2 linked regions of the Homo sapiens genome follow. The protein of the gene in region 1 purifies or fractionates together with the protein of each later gene. This does not show direct contact. Each region holds a gene or a part of one and is shown on either strand. Other genes may lie near its edges.

What was found. The genes of interacting proteins can lie anywhere in the genome.
Region 2: the proteins of NECAP2 (region 1) and AP1B1 purify together in Homo sapiens (affinity purification with mass spectrometry; 4 studies listed by BioGRID and IntAct, with this or other methods). This does not show direct contact.

What each region holds. Positions count from the first base shown.
Region 1 is NC_000001.11:16,446,790-16,451,020, reverse strand, and holds part of NECAP2 (adaptin ear-binding coat-associated protein 2), read right to left. Parts: intron 3,152-4,231; coding exon 3,047-3,151; intron 2,962-3,046; coding exon 2,880-2,961; intron 1,929-2,879; coding exon 1,820-1,928; intron 897-1,819; coding exon of another isoform or gene 801-896; exon of another isoform or gene 780-800; intron 1-779. UniProt on the Homo sapiens protein: Involved in endocytosis.
Region 2 is NC_000022.11:29,333,071-29,336,570, reverse strand, and holds part of AP1B1 (AP-1 complex subunit beta-1), read left to right. Parts: intron 1-2,160; coding exon 2,161-2,306; intron 2,307-3,312; exon of another isoform or gene 3,313-3,408; intron 3,409-3,500. UniProt on the Homo sapiens protein: Subunit of clathrin-associated adaptor protein complex 1 that plays a role in protein sorting in the late-Golgi/trans-Golgi network (TGN) and/or endosomes.

The sequences.
Region 1 (4,231 bases):
GACAATCTTTTGCATCTTGAGCAAGGTGCAAGTTTATAAATTGGGTGTTTTGTTTTGTTTTGTTTTTTGAGCCAGAGTTTCGCTCTTGTTGTCCAGGCTGGAGTGCAATGAATGGCTCGATCTCAGCTCACTGCAACCTCCACCTCCCAGGTTCAAGCCAATTCTCCTGCCTCAGCCCCCGGAGTAGCTGGGATTACAGCCATGGACCACCATGCCCGGCTAATTTTGTATTTTTAGTAGAGACAGGGTTTGTCCATGTTGGTCAGGCTGGTCTCGGACTCCCGACCTCAGGTGATCCGCCCACCTCAGCCTCCCAAAGTGCTGGGATTACAGGCGTGAGCCACCACTCCCAGCCTATAGATTAGATTTTTTAAATTTCACAGAGTTCTGCATTTATGATTTGTACACTTTTTTACATGCACATTATACTTCAAGAAAATGCTTTAAAAAAAAAACTGAGCACCAAGCATGAGCCAGAAAGCAGCACAAGTTACACAGATGAAGATAATGTGTTCCCTACTTGTAAGGAAAGCAGCAGCTTAATAAAATCGTAAGTCCAGCCCTGAAGTCAAAAGACCTCAAAGACCTCAGTGTGAGCACAGCTGTGCCAGTTATTTCTAGCTCTGTGACCCTGGGCAAGTCCCCAACCCTCCCTAAGCCTCCATTTCCTCATCTCATGGAGGAAAGGGAGAGGATGTTTAATTCACATGAGAAATGCCTAAAAAAAAAAAACAACAAAACAAAACAAAAAACAAAACAAAACAAAAAAAAACCACTACCTGGCCCTCAGCTGATGCTCATTAAATGTTAGTTTCCTCCAAGCGAGAGAAAGAATCACATCCCAACCAGTCCACTGGATTGGACTTGCATTTCTCTCTTAAGGGCCAGCTGGCCAACTTCAAGGATCCCAAATCATCACCAGCACGAAGCAGAAAAGAGGAGAAAGAGTAAGTAAAGAGGAAAAGCATTATTTTAGAGTTACAAAGCTTCTTGAAAAAACAAATCCATCTCAACACAGTATTCCTAGCAAAAACAAAAACCAATCCACTTGGTCCTTGGGTCCCCGCAATCATGACTCTGACCTCATCTCCCCTCTCCACCCTTGCAGCCAGGTAAAGGCCAACTTTAGGCAACCCAGCCCAGCCCAGCCCAGCCCAACCTGTTCCTATGAACAGGAGCTGACGGGAGGGAAGCCAGAGGCAGAGCAGCTCAGAACGAAGACACAGGAGCCAGGACAACACCATCAGCACAAGCTGCCCAGGACTCCCAGCGCCCACCTCAACGCCCTCCTGCCAGAACTCTCCCAAATCTTCCTTATTCAAGACACAGCCTGGGATGAGCACACAGGTCCCTCCTGATGCACTCTAATAGCTAGGACAGAAACACCACCTCTGGCAGCAAATGACTGATGCTCCTTCTCAGTTCAGAGGCTTTGCACCTGCTGTTCCTCTGTGTGAACCACTCTTTGATCACTCTTCCCTTGCCTACAGGTCCCTTCTTCCAGGAAGCCTTCCTTGGTTCCCACAACTATGGGCTGCACACCCTTCCTCTAGGAGCCCACGGCACCCAGGGCATCCCTTAGTCATGGAACCTTTCCTGCCATGTTGTTATCACATTTTTACCTGCCTGTCTCAGCTCAACTCTGAGCTCCATGAGAACAGAGGTCTCTTGTTCACCCCGATGCAGGACCTGGCACAAGGCAGATGCTCACTAAACATCTGCTGAACTGAAGGAGCTGAACTGTAAGAAGAGCAATGGGCTCTGGGGCTGGGTGGCCACAAGTATCACGTCACCACAGCCAAGCAAGGGTAGAACTCACTGCGATGTTGAGCTTGATGGTCTGGCCCTCCTTGAAGCCCAGGTCCAGTTTAGGGCCTTGGTCTGGGTTCTGGGCTTGTTTTGCAAATTCACACTGCTGTTTCACCCACCTGGGGAGAGAACATGAGGAAAAAGGTGAGGAAGGAAGAGACCAGCTGCCCTGCAATCACTGGCTCACTTCACTACTGCCTGCTATCAGTCCAGGCTGAGCCTCGTAGTGAGACGGGGTGCTGGAAAGAGTGCAGGCTTGGGAGTGAGGCCTGAATTCAAATCCCAATCTGACACTTAAGTAGCGGCATGCACATTGGTTTCCTCATCAGCAAAATATGCCCACAATTCTATAGGTTTTCAAGATGGCTACGAATGCAGCGAGATCACTTACGTAGAGGGTCCTAACACTATCTCTAGGACACGTGAGAGCCTGCCCTTCCCTCTACAGTATATGACATGAGAACTAAGATGCGGTCTCTACACACCCTCAAACACTCAGAAGGCAGACGGGGGGACAAGACAGATACCCAAAAGTAGAGGGCAACACAAAAGTCCCCCACCCTCCATACCACACCACCCAGCAGCACCGGTAAGGGAAGAGCCAGAGGCGCCCATGTGAGTGGCCGGGCACAGCCCACTCACTGGCAGCCTGAGTTCGAGCCCTGCAGATGGTGGAGGAGGACTTCCTGCCCTGTCTCTTAGCTTCAGAAAAGGACATCAGGGCATCTGCTGGGTGCCCTGGGAATCCAAGCGCCATTGATTACATGGAGGAGCAGGCCCAGAAAGGCCACAGGAGCCTGATGAGGACTCTGGCTGCTCAGGGGACTGGTAAGGGGAGACAGGTGGCAGGCCCGAAGGCTGGGATGGTAGAGATGAGCCTCAGGTAAAAGAGAAGGCTTTACAGCAGAGATGAACATTGGCAGAGAAGAGAGGTGGCTTGTCCTGGGTTCTCCTGAGTCTCTGCTGCCAGACAAATCACACACAAACACTTGGGTATCCTAACCTGGGAGATCATTCTGTCCAGGGAAAGAAGGGAGGGGCATGAGCGTGTGTCTCCCAGACCCACTCACTTGAAATGGTCCTGCAATGCAACATTGAAGTCAAAGGCATCACCTCGGTCCCCGAAGCCAATTCCAATAAACGCCCGTCGCCCTGGGGAACAACACATGATCAACCCACCTTCCAAAGGCAGAGAAAACCTTTCCCAAGAGGAGGAAGCACCAGGACCCATGCCTACCATTTCCATCTTCGATGCGGATCACGAAGTACCTGCTGGAATCCGTCACACTCTCCACAGCTGTGCCAGGAAACTGATCCACCGGGGCCTGAGCAAAGAGCTCCCCTGAAAGCACAGGTTAGGCTGAGCGCTGAGCCCTGAGCCCCCTTCCAGCCAAGGTTTTCTACCACACTACTGGGCCTTTTGCCCGCAAGGCATCTCTAACCAGCTGAGACAGATCGGCAAACCTTACTGTGGGATTCAAATCGAATCCATTCTTGCTAAAGGGAAGACACAGAAAATATAATCAAGGAAAGGCTTAAGTCAGAGAGCTTACAGGTCAAATTTAGCTCACAGTTTGGTATTCTGCCTGGCCTCTCTTAAAATTAAGCTTTATTAATGCTGAGCCTCCAAGCCCACCTGAGAATAAGTTGGAGCTGCTAGCCCATCCATTCCATCTGCTTTACCCACTTATATTACCTGAACCCTGAGTGTCCTAGAACAGGTGAACCCTGGCCTAGGTAATCACACCTGCTGAAGAGGCTAGTACCTGAGGCAGGACTATAAGAGGGGCCAGTGAGCCCCGAGGAAAGAAGGGAGGAAGTTTTCATACCCATAGGGAATCTGAAGCAGGCTGATTTAATTCAATCTGAGACAGGGCAAGCGTGACTAGCTTTAAAAGCCCTTGTGAAACACATCACCTTGTCAACTACAGCACTCGACAGTGCGGCACAACATAAAATTTCCACAAGCATTTATGACTGGCATCAGTTTTTCCCATGTGCTGACGTCTGTTGTTGCTTTTAGTATTTTTTGTTTTGTTTTTTAGAAACAGGGTCATGGAGTGGGTATGGTCCCAGCACTTTGGGAGGCTGAAGTGGGGTGCGTTGCTTGAGCCCAGGAATTTGATTTATACCTTTTTTTTTTTTTTTTCCTGAGATGGAGTCTCCCTCTGTCACCCAGGCTGGAGTGCAGCGGCGCAATCTCGGCTCACTGCAACCTCCGCCTCCCAGGTTCAAGTGATTCTCCTGCCTCAGCCTCCCAAGTAGCTGGGATTACAGGCATGCACCACCACGCCCCACTAATTTTTGTATTTTTAGTAGAGACAGTGTTTCACCATGTTGGCCAGGCTGGTCTTGAATGCCTGACCTCAGGTGATCTGCCTGCCTCAGCCTCCCAAAGTGCTGGGATTACAGGCGTGAGCCA
Region 2 (3,500 bases), on another chromosome or scaffold:
CTCGGCCTCCCAAAGTGCTGGAATTACAGGTGTGAGCCACTGCGCCCAGCCATGTGTTTGTCTTACCAGTGTTACCCCTGCTTTGTCTTCGTGAAGGGTCAGATGAGTGTATCCAACAGAGCATGCTGGAAAGGAGAGGGGAGGGGATCTCCTAGTCAAGAGTCATCAGGGCAGGTTGCCTGGAGGAGGAGTTTTTCTGCCACGGGCAGGACTTTCCCCACTGCCTTGGTCATGGGAGGGTTCTAGGGTGTGGGTGCACTATCCCTTCAGAATCACTCAGTAGGTATCCACATCTTCCTAACAGCGCTGTGGCCACCTGGAATTGTTCATTCCTCATGCATTTCCACACCCTGCTTGTGGGGTTACAGACATTGGCCAACCATGTTGGTCTAAGGAATGAGGCTGTCTGTGCATAAGAACTTTTGGGTTCCTCACCATTTGAGTCTGCTGGTGGTGACAGTTCATTGGTTCATCCAGTAAAGATTGAAGATGGTTCTGTTGGGACCTGTGTGAGATGCCATGAACCCATAGTGACCAAGAGCAGTGCGGTCTGCATCCCCAGCCTTGGGCGACTGAGAGAGGGCCAGGGGAAAGGAGGCCTGATTGGGGGGCCCCTGGAGAGTTGTCCATGAGAGAGCCATGCCCCCCGGTCAGGTTCAGCCAGCTTCTGCGTACTCTCTCAGCCGCCGTGGCACAGCCAAGAACAAAAGCAGGGTGCTTTCTGTCCTCACAGATCTGTCCGGGGGCGTGCTCAGGGTTAACCGAGCAGGATGGGGGTGGGGAGGCGCTTTCAAAGCAGAGGGAACAGCCAGTGTGAGGTCCCAGGGGCAGGGGCAAGCCAAGCCTGGGGAGCAGATGGGCACCAGGCTGTGGAGGCCAAGGCCCGTGGAGGCCATTGCAGGATTGGAAGGAGTTTCTCAGGGTGCCATGATCAGATTTGCATTTCACAAGATAACATCAGCTGCTGTGGAAAGGGGGAGAGGGTGGAAATGGGGTGCCACCTGGCAGCTGCTGTCTTACCTGGGAAATCTGGTGGCAGCTTAGATGCTGGTGGCACCTCTGGAGATGGAGAGAAATGGAGGCCCTGGAGGCAGATGTAAGAGGTGGCCTTCACAGGACTTGGGTTGCGTGACTGTCTCAAGGGGGTTAGGGTGGGGTGGGGGGCTGGTGCCTGATGTTTCTGTGGTTTCTGGCCTGGCAACCTGAGAGACAGTGGGACCTTTGTTGGCACTGAGTGCGCTGCGGAAGCTGTCGGTGGGGTCTGAGCCTTTTCACCTCAAGGGGCCTGTGAGCCGTCCACAGGAGAGTAACCGCCTGAGAGGCGTTTGTGAGCCCACAGGATGCCGCTGGTGGATGTCTTCCATGGCAGGGCTCTAACTCATCCTGTTTGCTCAGCAAACACTCCCCAAACACTGGTTTCACACCAGGCTCTGAGCCAAGGTGGTAAAGACAGAAAAACAGAGCCTTTCCCTCAGCGAGCTCTCTGAGTACAGGAGAGACAGACACAAGCTCATATTTATCTGCCATAACATCACTGGGGCGAGGGAACCTGGGGGCAGGGTTCCAGGAGGAGGTGGTTCTTGAGCTGAGACTTGAATGACAAGGGCAGCCAAGCAGCAGAAGGCCTGCCAGGCGAGGGGTCCTCTTAGGTACTGTCCTTGGTCAGACCAGTTTCTACAGCCAAAGGCCAGCCCTGCCTCCTGCAAGGGAGGACAGGCGGTGATGGCCAGGAAGGCCCAGATTCTGGCCGAGGCCCAGGATGCCATTGGGCACTGAGCTCTGTCCTTAGCTCATGGCATCCCTCAGCCCTACTTCCCAAGTGATCCCTCCATTGCCAGCTCATGGCCTCCCTCAGCCCTACTTCCCAAGTGATCCCTCCATTGCCCTCTGAGGACTCAACGTCAGCCCTGGAGCGCTGAAGTGCCTCCCCACCCTGAGCTGCTCCGAGAGGCAGCCTGTCATGGCGGTGGCCCTAGATGGTACATGGGATTGTTCTGTTCCCAGTACACACCTGTTCATCCCCTAGCAGTAAAGGTGGGGGTGCTGGATCTGGGAGGCCCCTGCAGGAGAGAGAGAGAAAAAGCACCCTCAGGTGGGCTGTTGAGTTTGGGCTGCAGGAAGAGGCACCTACCCGCCCCCTCCGCACCCTCTTCCCTGCAGGTCTGGCTCCCAGCCATGAAGGCTAAGGGGCTGGAGATCTCAGGCACCTTCACCCGCCAGGTGGGCTCCATCTCCATGGACCTGCAGCTGACCAACAAGGCCTTGCAGGTCATGACCGACTTTGCCATCCAGTTCAACCGCAACAGGTGAGAGCTCCCTGAGGCCAGCGCACCTCTCAAGAGGAGGCCTGTGAGAGAACCCACTCGGAGTCTGTTCTGGGGACTGCAGGCAGGGGTGGGGGCTGTAGAGGGGAGGGCAGTGCCCCTTTTCTGAAGGATGTTCCCCACCACCGCTCAGGCCAAAACTCTCTGAAGCACTGGGTTTTGTTTGTTTGTTTTTTCTTTTGGAGACAGAGTCTCACTCTGTCACACAGGCTGGAGTGCAGCAGCGCCATCTCGGCTCACTGCGGCCTCCACCTCCTGGGTTCAAGCAATTCTTCCGCCTCAGCCTCCCGAGTAACTGGGACTACAGGTGCACACCACCACGCCTGGCTAATTTTTTGTATTTTTAGTAGAGATGGGGTTTCACCATCTTGCCCAGGCTGGTCTCGAACTCCTGAGCTCAGGCAATCCGCCCACCTCGGCCTCCCAAAGTGCTGGGATTATAGGTGTGAGTGACCGTGCTCAGCCAAGCAGTGGGATTTTTACCCCCAAGTGGCCTCTTCATATGGACTCCAAAGTACCAGGCAGAGTGGGAAAGGACGTCTTTCTTTTTAGTTTTTATTTTTTTTGAGATGGCCTCAGTGTATTGCCCAGGTTGGTCTTGAACCCTTGGGCTCAAGCAATCCTCCTGCCTCAGCCTCCTGGGTCTCTGGGACTACAGGTGCACGCCACCACACCTGGCCCCCCTTATTTTTGCCTCCACAGTCCAAAGGAGTGTTTTACAGACAGAAACGCCCTGCTCCAGCTGAGAAGCCCACCTCTGGCAAACACCCCACATAGGAGGGGCCCATCTTAGGGACCAGCTCTCAGAAGGCTGGTGGGGAGTGGGCCTGCCTACCAGCCTCCCCATTGTGGCAGAGGATTAAAGTGTCAGATGGGGCCTCTGGGAGCGGTAGCTGCTTCAGGCCCCTCCCCACCGGGTCCGCTACACTGGGTGTCAGTGGGAAGGTTGCGTCATGGACCCAGCCAGTGAGGCTAGGACTCCCTGGGGACCCCTGGCAGCCCCTCCTGATGATTCTTCTTCCTGAGCACGCTCATGATGAGCAAACTGAGCCTCTAAGAAGTTGACTGAAGGGGCTGCTTCCCCAAGGAAGCCTGGGGGCCAGTAGGTCCTGACCCTTGGGCAGACCGGGGCTAGGGGTGGCTCTACCACTTACCCTCATGTGACCCTGGAGGCCA